2 separate regions of the Homo sapiens genome follow, and region 1 is linked to region 2. Evidence: fine-mapped expression QTL. Tissue or cell type: whole blood. Region 2 holds a variant in brackets; the other region holds the start of a gene. All regions are shown on one strand. Distances are between the middles of the regions.

Region 1 (8,103 bases), 270 kb before region 2:
TTTGGGAGGCCGAGGCAGGCAGATCATGAGGTCAGGAGATCGAGACCATCCTGGCTAACACGGTGAAACCCCGTCTCTAATAAAAATACAAAAAATTAGTCGAGTGTGGTGGCAGGCGCCTGTAGTCCCAGCTACTTGGGAGGCTGAGGCAGCAGGATGGCGTGAACCCGGGAGGCAGAGCTTGCAGTGAGCCAAGATAGCGCCACTGCAGTCCAGCCTGGGCGAAAGAGTGAGACTCCGTCTCAAAAAAAAAAAAAAAAAAAAAAAAAACAAGTTAGAATATATTCAGGTTTATCCCTATAATCACGTCTCTTTCAGTCATTTGTTTTTGAGAGGAAAGAGAAGGGTGGAATTTAGCTGTTTTGAATTTAGCTTTTAGCTGTTTTGAAATGTTATTTGCATGCTGGCTCATCTGGAGGCCACGGTCCAGATGCTCTCAGAATTTAGCACCATCAGAATTACCTGCAGGCTTGTTAAGCTCAGATTTCTGGAAATCACCGTTTTTTTTTTTTCGAGACAGGGTCTCACTCTCTCACCGAGACTGGAGCGCAGTGGCATGATTTCAGCTCACCACAACCCCCACCTCCCAGGCTCAAGCGATTCTCCTGCCTCAGACTCCCAAGTAGCTGGGATTACAGGTGTGCACCACTACCGCCTGGCTAATTTTTATATAGGCGTGAGGGTCCGTGCCCAGTTTCAGAGCTCTTGATATAGGAAGTCTACAGTGGGGTCCAAGAATGTGCATTTCCAAGAAGATCCCAAATGACGCTGACGCTGCTGATTGGTGGAGTCACAGTTTGAGAGCAGCTGCCACAACCTAAATAGGCAATAATAAATAAACAATCAAAGTATTATTAGTAGCTGTGGCTACTTTGAATTATTGTAGTGCTTTACTTATCTTCAACATTTTTGGCTTTCACCAAAATCCATGTATATCCATGGAAATGTGTCCCATAAGTCAAAATGTCTGTCTTGTGTGTTGCAAATGATCAAAGATTAAGGACCAATTGCTTCCATAGAACATTCAGGAGCATTTCCATCTTAGAGTACAAGTGCTACAGTCATTCATCTAAACATGTCTCAAGTTCACCAATTTATCCTGGTGAATTTATCTACACTTTCGAAAGAACTATTATTATTACTATTTATTTGAAAGAAACAGGGTCTTACTCTGTCACCCAGGCTGGGGTGCAGTGGCGAGATCATAGCTCATTGCAGCCTTAAATTCCTGGGCTTAAGTGGTCCTCCCACCTCTGCCTCCAGAGTAGCTGAGACAATAGGCATGCACCACCACAACCAGCTAGTTTTTAAAATTTTTTTTGTAGAGACAAAGTCACGCTGTGTTGTCTAGGCTGGTCTCGAACTCCTGGTAAGAGTAAAACTATTAGCATTCAAGGTATAATTATTTAAAGTATAATTATTACTATTCTATTTTATGTTGACTATTGCAATAGCTTCCTGTCTCCCAAGTTATCCATGTGAAGCCAGACAAATCTTTTTAAAATGCAATTTTTGTTGTTGTTGTTTTGTTTTTTGAAGTTGAGTCTCTTTTTATTGTCCAGTCTGGAGTGCAGTGGCCTGATCTCAGCTCACTGCAACCTCCACCTCCCTGGTTCAAGCGATTCTCCTGCCTCAGCTCCTGAGTAGCTGGGATTACAAGCACACGCCACCACACCCGGCTATTTTTTGTATTTTTACTAGAGACAGGATTTCATCTTTCTGGCCAGGCTGCTCTTGAACTCCTGACCTCGTGATCCACCCACCTCAGCCTCTCAAAGTGCTGGGATTACAGGCGTGAGCCACCACGCCCGGTCCTAAAACGCAAATTTGATCCTGCCACCGCTTGCATAAAACTCTCCAGTCCTCCCAATCTTCTCAGGAAAAAGTCCAGTACCTTTAACACAGCTTACATGACCTGGCCCCTGTCCACCTTACAAACTACTCCCCTCCAACCACAAGGACATTCTTTCAGTTCTTCATTCTCAACTAGCATGCTCCTTTCACTTGCAGGGTCTTAGCACCATACTGTCCTCTCACTCAGAAATATTCCTTCCCCCTTATCTTATTAACTCTTCCTCTTTCTTCGTTGCTCAGTTTATGCCATTTCCTCAAGAAAGCCTTCCCTGTTTCTCCCAAGCCAGGTCAATCTCCTCTGTGACATGATTTTATAGAACCATGTTCCATTCCTTCAGACCACTAACTCCTTTTATCTAGGGTCTTCATGTGTTGTCTGCAGGAGAGAAGGACCGAAACTGTTTTGTTTTGTTTTGTTTTGTTTGAGTCAGATTCTTGCTCTGTCGCCCATGCTGGAGTGCAGTGGTGCCATCTCGGCTCACTGCAACCTCCACTTCCCGGGTTCAAGAGGTTTTCCCATCTCAGCCTCCCGAGTAGTTGGGACTACAGGTACCCATCACCAAGCCCAGCTAATTTTTGTAGTATTTTTAGTAGAGATGGCTTTTCACCATGTTGGCCAGGCTGGTGTCCAACCCCTGACCTCAAGTGATCCACTTGCTTCAGTCTCCCAAAGTGCTGGATTACAAGCGTGAGAGACTGCACCAGGCCCCAAGACTGTTTTTACTACCACTGTATTTCTAGTGCCTGGTACAACACATTGTAAGTGTCAGTAAACATATGTTGGATAAAATTTTAAAATGCATGTTTATTTTCTCAGTCCCTACTATGCAGCAAATCCTATGCTGGGCCCTAAAGGGGAACCAAGGTTAGTAAGAGAAATGCTTGACCTTAAGGAACTCCATGCCAGTTAGAAGCAATGGATCCGTAAACCAAAAGTATCTGAGACCAGTCTCAATCGAGAAAGTTTATATTGCCAAGGTGAAGGATGCGATGATAACACGGCCTCAGGAGCTCCTCAGGACATGTGCCCAAGGTGCGGGTACAGTTTGGTTTTATACATTTTAGGGAGACATGAGTCATCGATCAATACATGTAAGATGTACGTTGGTTAGGATCGGAAAGACGGGCTAACTCGGGGCAGTGGGGGGCTTCTACCTTATAGGTAGACTTAAAGATTTTTTGATTGGTAATTGGTTGAAAGAGTTATTATCTAAAGACCTGGAAGTAAATAGAAAGAAATATCTGGGTTATGATTATAAGGGGTTGTGGAGACCAAGGTTTTATCATGCAGATGAGGCTTCCAGGTAGCCTGCTATTCAGACAGAATAGATTGTAAATATTTCTTATCAGTCTTGAGTCTACCAGTCTTAAGGTCTCTGTGTTGATGTTTGTGAGGCATGTCTGACTACCACTTCCCATCATGGCCTGAACTAGTTTTTCAGGATAAATTGGAATGTCCTTGGCTTCAGATAGGGTCCACCAGTCAGTTGGGGGGCTTAGACTTTTATTTTTGGTTTACAGATATCACATGGACTATAGAGACACATTTCTGTAACAGAGTAGAAGTGCAACATGAGAAGAACAAAGTGCTTTAGGCGACAAGCGGAGGAGGGAGACATCAATCCCAGATGGGAAAAATCAATTCACTTTCTGTGTGTGGTGTTACTTATTTATTTATTTTTTGCAGGGAAGGGATCGATTCATTCAACGTACACCTTGAATGAATAACTATAGTTCTCCCTACGTCCTATGCACTGTCCTAAGTGTTTTACGTGGTTAAGGACACTAAGATTTTACAGATGGGGAAAACAATGCACACGACAGTCAAGTGACCCGCTCAACGTCACACAGCTACTAAGTGGTAGAAAAGGCAGTTGAACCCAGGCTGCTTGGCTCCAGAGTCTAATATCACGGGGAAAACCTCACGGGAGACGTGGCAACGAAGTTGTGCTTCATTGAAGTATCTGTCCAGGTGGAAAACCGCAGGGCCTCTCTAGCAAAATCCAGAACCAGAAAATACTTGCTTAATTATGAGTTTCCTTCCTTCTTTTGCCCACTATCCCCATTTAACCTGCGGAGGGATTTCAGAAGTGCAGTGAATAAAGATGCAGGGGACTATGGAACACTAATTTCCGGCTACGGCGAATTCAGGCTGTTTCCATGGAAACAGTAACGGGTGGGCAGCTAGGTATAGTCTCGCGGTGCTTGAACCAGCGGAAGTGACGTCGCCGCTCGCGAGGACCTCAGGTGGATCGCCGCGGCCCCTCCTCCCAGAGCGGCAGCCTTTTCCCGCGCGTGCTGCCTTCGCCGCTCGGGCCGCCCGGGGGAAAACATGGCGTCTGCCCTGGAGCAGTTCGTGAACAGTGTCCGACAGCTCTCAGCTCAAGGTAACGCCCTAGGCCGCCGGGCTGGGCATGGGCGGGTACCGGGAACTGGCCTGGATCCCCAGGCGCCAGCACGGACGGCTGGAACAGCCCTTTTAGTCCTGAGACTCTTCTCCGGGGCCGGGCTTGGGGTTGCGGCGTTTAGATCAGGGCAGGATCGAGCGCGGCCGAGTGTAGGCAGCCCCCTCGCGCTCCGCTGTCCTCGCCGGCCGGCCTCCCCTCCCTCGGGCCGCCGGGAGCCCCCTCCCCCCGGCCTGGGCCCCTTCCACCGGGCGCTTTGCTTGACAGTTTGGGGGCGTGACTTCCGCCAGGAGCCATCTCGGGCGACTATTGGTTCCTTCTGTCTCTCTTGCCTTCGGTGATTGGCGCACCGCCATGTCATCTTTGCCGCCGATCCGCAGCTTGCTGACTAGGCCGCCGGGAGCGGGCGGGAGGCGAGTCCGTTCTGGGTGTCTTGGCTCTATGGCTCGCCTCTGCCAGCTCCTCCGCTGCCAGGCGGCGCACGCTCGGGAACCTGTGCGCCTATTTTGGTCCTACAGAATGCTGCGGAAGCTCTCGCTCGTAGGACTCCATTTCTTCTTCTTTGTTTTTTTTTAGCCGAGGCTGGAGTGCAGTGGCGCGATCTCGGCTCACTGCAACCTCAGCCTCCCGGCTTCAAGCGATTCTCCTGTCTCAGCCTCCCGAGTAGCTGAGATTACAGGCGCCCGCCAGCTCACACGGCTTTTTTTTTTTTTGAGACGGAGTCTCACTGTCTCCCAGGCTGGAGTGCAGTGGCGCGGTCTCGGCTCACCTCAACCTTCGCCTTCGAGGTTCAAGCGATTCTCCTGTCTCAGCCTCCCGAGTAGCTGGGATTACAGGCGCCTGCCCGGCTAATTTTTGTATTTTTAGTAGAGACAGGGTTTCACCATGTTGGCCTGGCTGGTCTCGAACCTTGATCTCAGGTGATCCACTGGCCTCGGCCTCCCAAAGTGCTGGGATTACAGGCATGAGCCACCGCGGCCAGCCCACGCGGCTAATTTTTTCGTATTTTTAATAGAGATGGGGTTTTTACCATGTTGGCCAAGCTGGTTTCGAACTCCTCACCTGAAGTGATCCGCCCACCTCGGCCTCCCAAAGTGCTAGGATTACAGGCGTGAGCCACTGCGCCCGGCCAGGACTCCATTTCTAGGGGTAGAATTGTGATGATTTTACTCGCACTTTCCAGGTTGTTTGGTTCATTCATTGCGTATGAATGTACCGAATTCTGGACCTGAAATTCGAATGATTAGATGCTGGCTGTGAAGGCCCTTTTAACTATCCCGTGCTTCAGTTTCTTCGTCTGCAAAATAAGTCCCTAGTTTATGTAGAGTTGTGAAGATTCAATGAGAGAAACCATGTAAAAGCAGTTGGAACAGTGCCTGTCATAAGGGGTGCAATAAATATAGCTGCAAATTATTGTTACCGTCATTAATTGCAAAGTTCTAGGAGCTGCTTGACCTTGGACAAATAACCTTTAATCTCTGAGTCTTTTGCATCTCCATTGTAAAAATGGAGGGGTGCTTTTACCTCACTGGTGTAAGACAAATGGTCTGATATGGAGCTGCACTTAATAAGAATTCTTCCTCTTTTTCCTTTTTATTAATAGAAATGAGGTTCACAGGGAAGGCACAGGCTTGCCTTTTCTATGAATAAAGGAACCACTGGTTTGTTAATTTATTCGACAAATACTTAGTGTTCTCCTTCCTGGGGTGTAGTGTAGTTAGAAGCTTCAGGTTGAAATCCTGTCGCGGTCACTTCTTGGGTGAACCACTTAATTTCCCTGGGCCAATTTTCTTAATTACAAAACAGAACTAGGGCTGTTGTGGTCTTCAGGTTATAGGATGCTATAGGAACAGTCTGCTAGACAGAGATAAATATGGTAACTTTCATTGCTGTCGGCTACTGTGCCTCACACTCACTGGATAGGAAATCTTTGAGTTTCAGGCCAGGCGCAGTGGCTCACTCCTGTAATTCCAGCACTTTGGGAGGCCGAGGCGGGCGGATCATCTGAGGTCAGGAGTTCAAGACCACCCTGGCCAACATGGTGAAACCCTGTCTCTACTAAAAATGCAAAATTAGCCAGGCATGGTGGCGGGCGCCTGTAATCTCAGCTACTCGGGAGGCTGAGGCAGGAGAATGGCATGAACCTGGGAGGTGGAGCTTGCAGTGAGCCAAGATCGCGCCACTGCCCTCCAGTCTGGGTGACAGAGCAAGACTCCGTCTCAAAAAAAAAAAAAAGAAAAAAAAGAATTTTATTGGCCACATCTCTGGTTACACTGATTTCAAATGCACTCTGTGACACTTAAACTTTTTTTTTTTACTCTGCCCTTGGCCCTGCACTAATTAATTATCTGGTGATTTCATAGTGACCCAGCTTTTATTTCAGTCTCAACTGGGCACTGATTGTTAACTAGTAGAGAACTAATGGATTGCAATGCTTATTTCTGGGTGTTACAAATTATTGTTAATATATTTAGAGTAATGGTTTACAAAGGCAAATTATTCAACTAGAAGTTACTTCATACCTACCAGTGAGATCTGTAATACAATGATGATGAGTTGGTATTTCCCAGTTAAATCTGTGTGATCTCAAGAGGTGACACCTAATAAGATCACAGCTGTTTTATTCTTGTTTTGTAATGCATGTATAATAATGATACATTTCCTTTGCTTTCAGTAAAATGTATCAAATTGAAAAGTGTTAAATTATCAAAAGTACCTAGCTATAGTCACTTGTATTTTAAGCATTATACTATGTTGTATTCTTTTAGTAAGGAAAAGATTATGCAGTTGCTCTGTAGAAATAGAGAAGTTGGAAACTTGAGGTTAATGCCCATGGACTTAAATATATCCTCACTGTTACCAGAAAGACAGAGTGTGACCATGGTATCTGTCATGACAGTAATTGTCAAAATTGATGGGTCTACTTAAAGGTACCAATTCAGGCCTAATTTTTTTTTTCCCCCGAAACGGAGTCTTGCTCTGTTGCCCAGGCTGGAGTACAGTGGCGCAATCTCAGCTCACTGCAGCCTCCATCTCCCGGGTTCAAGGATTGTCCCAGGTTAAAGGATTCTCCCACCTCAGCCTCCCGAGTAGCTGGGATTACAGGTGTGTGCCACCACACCCAGCTAATTTTTGTATTTTTAGTGGAGACAGGGTTTCACCATGTTGGCCAGCCTGGTCTTGAACTCCTGACCTCGAGATATCTGCCCACCTTATCCTCCCAAAGTGCTGGGATTACAGGTGTGAGCCAGCCTGGTCTTGAACTCCTGACCTCGAGAGATCTGCCCACCTTATCCTCCCAAAGTGCTGGGATTACAGGTGTGAGCCACAGCACCCGGCTGAGGCCTAATTATTAATAGATTCTGTACCTTAGTTGTTAAAATGTAGCATTGCAGGCTGAGTGTGGTGGCTCATGCCTCTAATCCCAGCACTTTGGGAGGCCAAGGTGGGAGGATTGCTTGAGCCCAGGAGTTAGAGACCAGACTGGGCAACATAGTGAGACCCCTGTCTCTGCAAAAAACTTAAAAAATAAGATGGGCATGGTGACGTACACCTGTAGTTCCAGCTACTCGGGAGGCTAAGGTGGGAGGATTGCTTGAGCCCAGGAGATGGAGGCTGCGTTGAGCTGTGATCACACCACTGCACTGCAGCCTGAGCGACAGAATGAGACCCTGTCTCAAAAAACAAAACAAAACAAACATAGTATTGCAGTATAGGGGAAAAATAGATCAATTAGGAGATTAATTCAACAAGTAGCTGCTTGATGAACTGCTAAGCAGGTGATGTATTCTAGAGCTGGAGAAAGGGACAATCCCTCCACCTGAGTTTACTGAAATACCTAACC
Region 2 (8,103 bases):
TCCTTCCGGAATCCGAAAGTGGAGTGTGGTGTGGCTGGCAGAGCAGGCTGCCCAAGGGAGCCAGGAGAGGGGAGGACGGAAGGGGTGGGAGCCGTCTTCTCCAAGGCTGCTGTAATGCTGACCTAGAGAAGACCCCCAGAGTGGGGCATGTCCCACACTCAGCTGGCCCTGCTCCTGCCACCAGGCCTGGCACACATCGGATGCTCCCTGAGTCATGTCGAGGAAGGAATGTCTAACACTTGAAAATATTCTAGAGCCATAAAGATAGTCCTGGTTGGACCCAGACCAAACCTCAAATTGGTCCCAAGGAAGATTTCACAACTTCCTTTGAGAGATGCCTCTCAGTGTCGCCTGGCGCGATTCAGGAAGTCCTTCTTGAGAGCTAACCTAAATCCTTCCTGCTCGCCCTCCTCATGCTTGGGAGAGGAGGCAGCAAGGAGGGGGGGACAGGTGGGCCTCTCGCCTCAGAGCCCATATGAGGTCCCGAGAAGGTGAGGCTGGGCCCTGACTCAGCTTCAGCACACACTATTTCCATTCCCTTCCCGTGACTCAACAGGGGAGGGGCCCGGGGGCCACTCACCTCTGTCTTCTCAACCTGCAACTCCCCCCACCCCTTCCTGGATTCCTGTGACGCAGGAATCCCTCTGGTCTGTGTGGAGGAACCCAGAGCAACTTGAGCCAGAAGTGGATGTCCAAGCCGGCATGAGTCACCCCTCAAAATCAGGACCAGTGAGGGCCTGAAGAGGCCACACAGCCTCCGGCAGCCTGGCCGCCGCTCACTTCTCTGGGAAAGTGGCCTGGAGCTCGCATGGCATCTGGGCCCAGCCTCTGCCTCTGACCTGCACTGACCCCTGTGTCACCCGCCTCCAGGGTGACCCTCCTCCTGGCATTCAGACAGCTCCACTCACTGCTTCGCACAAACCTGTGCCACCCTGGTTCAAACATTAACCAGCTGTGTGACTTTTTAGAAGCCCTTCCCATGTTTAAAAACCAAGCTGGGAGGATGCTGCACCACTGCCATCATGGTTCTCACTGAACCGTCGCAGGAAAAAGCATTTCTTGCGCCATGGCTGTGTGCAGAACAGGCTTCCCACGGCTGAGTCCCCAAGCCCCCCACAGACGCTGCCAATGAAATGCCGTCAGCCTCAAGCATGGTTCTTGGTACCCAGCCCTGGTAAAACCACGTGTCTCAGGCCTTCTGAACCACAGTGCCCAGAACTCTGGCTGGGCTTTGTCCCAGAGGACAAGACTGGCCAACCCCCTGCTGAGCTGGAAGAATAGCTCCCTCAGCTGGCAGGGACCTGCCCCTGTTGCAATTTGGACTGAGTAAATGCTGACAGGAGGAGACTGCGTGTCAGGCCAGGATAGACAGAGGCAAACTCTGTACCCTCAGAGAGCTTAGAAGCTAGGGTTGGAAAGCATGGGAAAGGGTCAGACACCCAAGAGAAACAAGTGCTGATGTCCACCAAAAGAAAACTTACTGCATTCTATAAACTAAAAACAAACAAATGTTCTCCTGCATTGCATAGCAGAGGAAAAGACCAAATGACTCTTCCATGCAACAAGTTAGATGAATCTCGCAGATAAAGTCAGACAAAAGAATCCAGACGCAAAAGAGCATGCACAGTATGGAGGTCAAAAACAGGCAAGGTTGGGTGCGGTGGCTCACGCCTGTAGTCCCAACACTTTGGGAGGCTGAGGCAGGTGGATTACGAGGTCAGGAGATCGAGACCATCCTGGCTAACACAGTGAAACCCCTTCTCTACTAAATATACAAAAAATTAGCCGGGCGGGGCGGCGGGCGCCTGTAGTCCCAGCTACTCACGCGCTGAGGCAGGAGAATGGCGTGAACCCGGGAGGCAGAGCTTGCAGTGAGCCGAGATGGTGCCACGGCACTCCAGCCTGTGTGACAGAGCGAGACTCCGTCTCAAAAAAAAAAAACAAAAAAAAAACAGGCAAAAGTCATCTATGGAGACAGAAGTCCTGGTGGTGGTTTCTTGGTGGGGCTGGTGGAGGATGGGGTTATTGACGGGAAGGAGGCACCAGGGAGCTTTCTGGGGTCCTGGAAATGTTCCATGTCTTCATCTGGGGTGTGATGACGGGGTGGACACATTTGTTAAAAGGCATTGATTTGCACACCAACATTTGTGTACTTTGCTGTAAATTTTCCCACACTTTAAGAAGAAGAGGAGGGAAGAAGAACCCTTGGGGAGACCAGCTGGGACCCCCTGCTGCTGACTCGCGGGCGTTGCTTCGTGCCCCATGATTGTCAAGCCATTGAGGCCTCCTGGCAGCCTGGTAGACCTAGAACTATCTATGCCAATAAGACACAGATTGTTGGCTCCACCACCAGTTTCTGAATCAGGAGGTCTAGGGGGGCCTTGGAATTCACATTTCCTGCAGCCTGCAGGCCATGCTGGGGCTCTGGCCCAGGAACTGTGCTTTAGAAGAGACGGTAGAACATGGTACTGGCTACAGAATGTGCTGTGAGATCCCTCCAAGCTGGGAAGGACCCAGGTAAGTTCACAGAGGAGGTGCCCTTGAAAGATCAGTAAGATCTGAAAACGCCCAAATAAGCAGGAACTGCTGGTTCCAGGGAGGGAAGTCAGTGTGAGGCAAAGTAGAGAGGCTGGGAAGTGCAGCGAACGGCATTCCAGCCCTCAGGAGGGCAGGGCTGGCAGACAGATGTCTGAGTCCATTTCGTGCTGCTATAACAGAATACCTGAGACTGGGTCATTTATAATAATCAGACATTTATGTGGCTCATAATTCTGGAGGCTGGGAAGCCCAAGGGCATGGTGCTGGCCTGAGCCCAGCATTTGGTGAGGGCCTTCTTGCTGCCTCATCCCATGGTGGAAATCAGGAGGGTAAGAGACCAAACTCACAGTCTCAAGGCCTTTTATAATCAGCATTAACCCATGCGTGACGGTGGGCACCTTATAACCTAAACACCTCCTATTAGGCCCCAGCTCCCAATACCATTGCACCGGGGATTAAGTGTTGAATACACGCCTTTTGGGGGACACATGCAACCCACAGAAAGAGGACATTGAGGCTTCTGCTTAGAAGGTTTTGTTCTGCATGATAAAGCTTGAAAATAGGAGGAAGCTCCAGAAAAATGGCCCTCCCCCACCCCTACCAGGGGATTATGTTCCAAAGTCAGAAAGTGAGGCACAAACCACATGTGGTCATTTACCTGTGACAACCTGTGATTGGCCTATGAAGGTAGATAGCCTAGCTCAGTGCTAAAGGGCCGGAGCAGATGCTGAGTTCACTGGCTGAGTGCCAGGTAAAGCCATCCGTGTGCACTGAGTGCTCATATTGGATGACAAACCTGGACAAAGAGCCCTCCAGCCCTTCCCTGTAACAAGCAGGAGCCGGGGCAGAAGGGCAGAGGTGCAGCACAGCTGGGTCTAATGTGGGGAGCAATGTGGGGCAGGGGCAGGGCCAGGGCCAGGAAAGGGGCCTGCAGCTGTTGGTAGGCTAGCGGGTAAACAAACCCATTACAGTGGAGGTGTGCTGCTGACCGCCTTTCCTACAAGCTCATGGGCCGCCTTCACAGCACTTCCCCTGCTGCTTTTTCAGTGTAATCTTACAGCTATTCTGTCAAGACACCATGTTAAACACTAGTGGAAAAGTCACTGTGCAGAATTACCATATAATCTAGTAATTCCGCTTTTGGGTATATACCAAAAAATACCCCAAAAATAATTGAGATCAGGGTCTCCAACAGATGTTTGTTCACCCATGTTTATAGCAGCATTCTTTTTTTTTTGAGACGGAGTCTCACTCTGTTGCCTAGGCTGGAGCGCAGTGGCGTGATCTC[A/G]GCTCACTATAGCAGCATTCTTTACAACAACGAAAAGGTGGAAGCCACCCAAATGACCATCGATAAACAAAAATGTGGTCTGTGCGTACAATGAAATATTATTCAGTCTTACAAAGGAAGGAAATTCTGGCACATGCTACAATATGGAAGAACGTGAGGGCGTAATATTCCGTGAAAAGACAAACTCTATATGATTCCACTTATACGAGCTAAGGGAAGGGGAATGGGGAGTTACTGTTTACTGTTCATTGGAGACAGTTTCAATTTGAGGAAGATGAAAAAGTTCTTTTTTTTTTTTTTTAAGAGACGGAGTCTCGCTCTGTCGCCCAGGCTAGAGTGCAGTGGCCCTATCTCGGCTCACTGCAAGCTCCGCCTCCTGGGTTCACGCCATTCTCCTGCCTCAGCGTCTGAGTAGCTGGGACTACAGGCGCCCGCCACCACGCCCGCCTAATTTTTTGTATTTTTAGCAGAGACGGGGTTTCACCGTGTTAGCCAGGATGGCCTCGATCTCCTGACCTTGTGATCTGCCCACCTTGGCCTCCCAAAGCATTGAGATTACAGGCGTGAGCCACCGCACCCGGCGAAAAAGTTCTTGAGATGGACGATGGTAATGGTTGCACAACAATGAGACTGTGCTTAGTGCCACTGAACTGTGCATTTCACGATGGTCAAGATGGTAAGTTTTATGTGGACAAAAAGAACACGCTATGTGTGGAGGGGTGCAGTGGCTGGAACCCCAGCACTTTGGGAGGCTGAGACAGGCGGATTACTTGAGGTCAGGAGTTCGAGAGCAGTCTGGCCAATGTGGTGAAACCCCGTCTCTACTAAAAATACAAAAATTAGCCAGGCGTGGTGGCGCACGCCTGTAATACCAGCTACTTGGGAGGCTGAGGTGGGAGAATTGCTTCAACCTGGGAGGTGGAGGTTGCAGTGAGCCGAGATTGTGCCATTGCAGTCCAGCCTGGGCGAAGAGTGAGACTCCGCCTCAGGAAAAAAAAAAAAAAAAAAAAAGAACATGCTATGTTTGTATTTAGGATCTAGGTTTAGCTACGTCTAACAACAGTGGCTTTAACAAGACAGAGGTTCATTTCTCCAGCACACTGTCTAGGGGTGGCAGGGCAGTTCAGGGCTGCGGTGGCAACTCTGCTCCATGCAGTTATTCAGGGATCCACCCTTCTCTCTCCCATCCCTAGGGTGTTTCTCTTGTCCATGTAGCTCAAGACAGTGCACCATCATGTCCACATCCTAAACAGCAGGGTTAAGAAAGTATGGAAAAGGGCTTGCCCTCCCCTTAATAATTTTTTTTTTTTTTTTAAGAGACTGGGTCTCACTCTGTCACCCAGGCTGCAGTACAGTGGCACCATCATAGCTCACTGCAGCCTAGCCTGGGCTCTAGCAATCCTCCCACCTCAGCTTTCTGAGTAGCTGGGACTATAGCCACATGCCACCATGTCCAGCTGAATTTTTTTTTGGTATTTTTTGTAGAAATGGGGTCTCGTTATGTTGCCCAGGCAGGCCTTGAACTCCTGGCCTCAAGTGAGCCTCCCACCTCGGCCTCCCATAGCTCTGGGATTACAGGCATGAGCCACTGTGCACAGCCAGCTCCCACCTCTCTTGAAGCACTGTCATTTGGGGCCTCTGTTCTAGAAGGGGGTGCAGTTGCTGCTTGGTGTGTTGTCCATCCCCTCCACAGGATGGCAGCTGCATTTAATCTCCCGTGGCCACCATGGAGGTGCTCTTCTCAGGTCGGCCTTCAAGAGAGAAGCCTCTGCAAGAAGTGCAGTCAGCTGACAGCCTCCAGCTACTTGGGGATCTTCCGCCACATTCAAATCATCCTGCCCAACCTGGGACCCCAGTACTGGCCATCTTTGCTCCAGAGACCCCCTGGGGCCGGGTGAGGCTCCCCCGCCCAGCTCTCCAGTGGCCCCTCTCCTTCACAAGCATTGTGCTTGGTGCGCTCCATGCTCTCCCTGACTGCTCTGCCCCTCGCCCCTTTCTCCTTTACAGCTCCTTCTCCTAACACAGTTCTTGTATCTCTAACTCCAACCTGTTGTCTACTTCCCAGGGGAGCTGAACTGACACCTTTGCCCCAGGCCATATCCCCAGCACACAGACAAGTGCCTAGCACATAGTAGGCGCTCAACAGAATTTCCAAGTGAGCACAGAAAACACAGTGGGCAGTCAATACATGTGTGTTGAACTCAGCAAATTGCACAGCAGCTGGGAAACAGCCGTCGCCGGCTCCTCTGAGCGTGGTGCTCCCGCAGCCCGTGTCAGCTGCGGTGCTTTGCCAATGCAAACAGGAGTGGAGAGTTAGACCCAGGCCCACTCCAGCTGCTGGGCCCCTTGCTCAACACAGCCCCTTCCTGCCACCTGCAGGGTGGGGTCTTCCTGAGCCCGCAGAGGGCACAGAAGGAAATACCTGCTCCCGGCCATGCAGGCCTCCCTGGCATGGGCACCCTGAGAGTCCTGGTCCCGGGAGCCAGGAATAACAAAGAGGCTGCCAGGGCCGGGCCCCTGGGACCTGAGGGCTGAGGGCAGAGCATGCCTCCCTGGTTTGCTGGGCAGGAGGCTGATTGGGCTAAATGGACTTTGTTGATGGTGACCCTTTGTTCCTCCATGGCGGCTCCGTCTGAGGAGAAGTTTTGGAGGCTGTTCATTCTCCTGCTTCCCCTGCTGCCACCCCAGAGACAAGGAGAGCAGCCTCCCAGTGGCCTGTTGGTTTGTAAAAGAGTCAGGTGTGGGAGGTTGCATCACGTGCTTCTCTGGACTCGTGGTCTGCAAGGAGGTGTGACAAGTGTGGCTGTAGGTCGATGAGCTGTGTGCGGCTTGGTAACGGGCAGTGGATGAGCCAGGGGGAGCAGCAGGTGGCCCAGCCCCAGGGATGAACATGGGGGAACTGGGTCCGATGTAGGCAGGAAGGAGACATCAGCAGCAGCAGCCCAGGGGCGTGGTGGAGGGGTGCGGGGGGGCCAGAGACAAGCCAGAGATGCCTGGATGATCCATTTTGCAGAAATAACAATCTCGAATCCAGGGCTGGGCCTGGCTGTGGCTTGGCCTGGCCAAGGGTGGTGAGCAGCAGGTGTGCTGATTGTAGTTAAGAAGCCATCGGTGTCAGACCAGAGTCCCCGGGCTCTGCACCTGAGGCTGCTGCGAGAGGAAAGCGATAGGGGCTCAGGCATGCTGAGGAGGTAGGTGGGCACGTGAAGGTGGGCCTCCAGGAAGGGGACATGAATACAGCAGGTCTTGGAGCTTTCTCCTTCAGGGGCAGGGGCAGGAGGACGGCCACCTGGCTTCACCACGAAGGGCCCGAGAGCATGGCATGGAGGGAGAGGCAGATCTAGAGAGAACACCGGCCAGTCTGCGGAGGGAGGTGGAGGAATGGGTTGAAGAGGGAAGAATTCCTGACACAAACTCTGAAATGACAAAGGAAAAGAATGACAAATCCGATTACACAAACATGAGCAACTTCCAAAGACCAATCACAAAAAACAAAACAATCACAAAGTCCCCACCAACATGGCTGAAAATAAAACAATTAGCTGAGAAGAAATATTTGTCACCTACAGACCATGGCAGACAGAAGATTTTATTTTAAAGCACCCTACAAATCACTAAGAAAAAAGCCCCAAAGAAATAGCAATCTGGAAAAGGACACAAAAAGGGAACGTGCAGAAGAAGTGCCAGCAGCTGCCAAACCCACGGTCCACAAAATCCTGGATCAAACAGGCAGGAGACAGCATGACAAGGTGCCACTCTCTGCCCATCGGGTCGGCACAGATTTAAAAACAAGGACCTGGTATTGCCAAGGATGTGGGGAAAGAGCCCTGTGGGTGAGGGTGTCAATTGGACAATGGCTGTCAACTTCTAGAATAATCATGTGTGCTTCCCTTTGATCCAAGAATCCCGCTGGGGGAAATTATTCCTGTAGAAATGTTTGCTCAGGTGTGCGAAGACACCTGCGTAAGACTTTTCATCTCAGCATTGTGTGTGATGCTGATGCCACAGCGTGGTGCCTAGACACCTCCTGGAGAGGACCCAGAAGGCCCGGCCACAGGTGGGGGCCGTGTTGCCATGGTCCCTGCCCAGAGGATGCCTGGCTGGTGCGGGGCAAGAGGGAGGTGGTCCTAGAGGCAGCCTTGCCTTGATCTACCCACAGGAGCGCACTGGACAGGGGTCCTGTGAGTGTGGGATCAGGGTCCCCCAAGCCCCATCTGCCCTCTGGTGCCCAGTGGCATTGAGCAGTTGTCTTAGCCACTCTGACCTCCACATCCTCC

Evidence for each region. PIP is the estimated chance that this variant, and not a neighbour inherited with it, causes the effect.
Region 1: COPS3 starts here. The variant in region 2 is fine-mapped to the expression of COPS3 in whole blood (INTERVAL, PIP 0.99).

Annotation. Positions count from the first base shown.
Region 1 is chr17:17,277,270-17,285,372 of GRCh38, reverse strand. COPS3 (COP9 signalosome subunit 3) reads left to right here and starts at 4,127. Exons shown (of 12, transcript NM_003653.4): 1 at 4,127-4,241. The coding sequence starts at 4,187. RefSeq lists enhancers at 3,930-4,029, 4,680-4,739 and a silencer at 4,250-4,489.
Region 2 is chr17:17,003,365-17,011,467 of GRCh38, reverse strand. No RefSeq gene overlaps it. Among named protein-coding and RNA genes, the nearest start is that of LINC02090, 19 kb to the right of the region's middle. RefSeq lists enhancers at 1-380, 6,206-6,734. The variant A/G (reference allele first, on the strand shown) is at 3,827.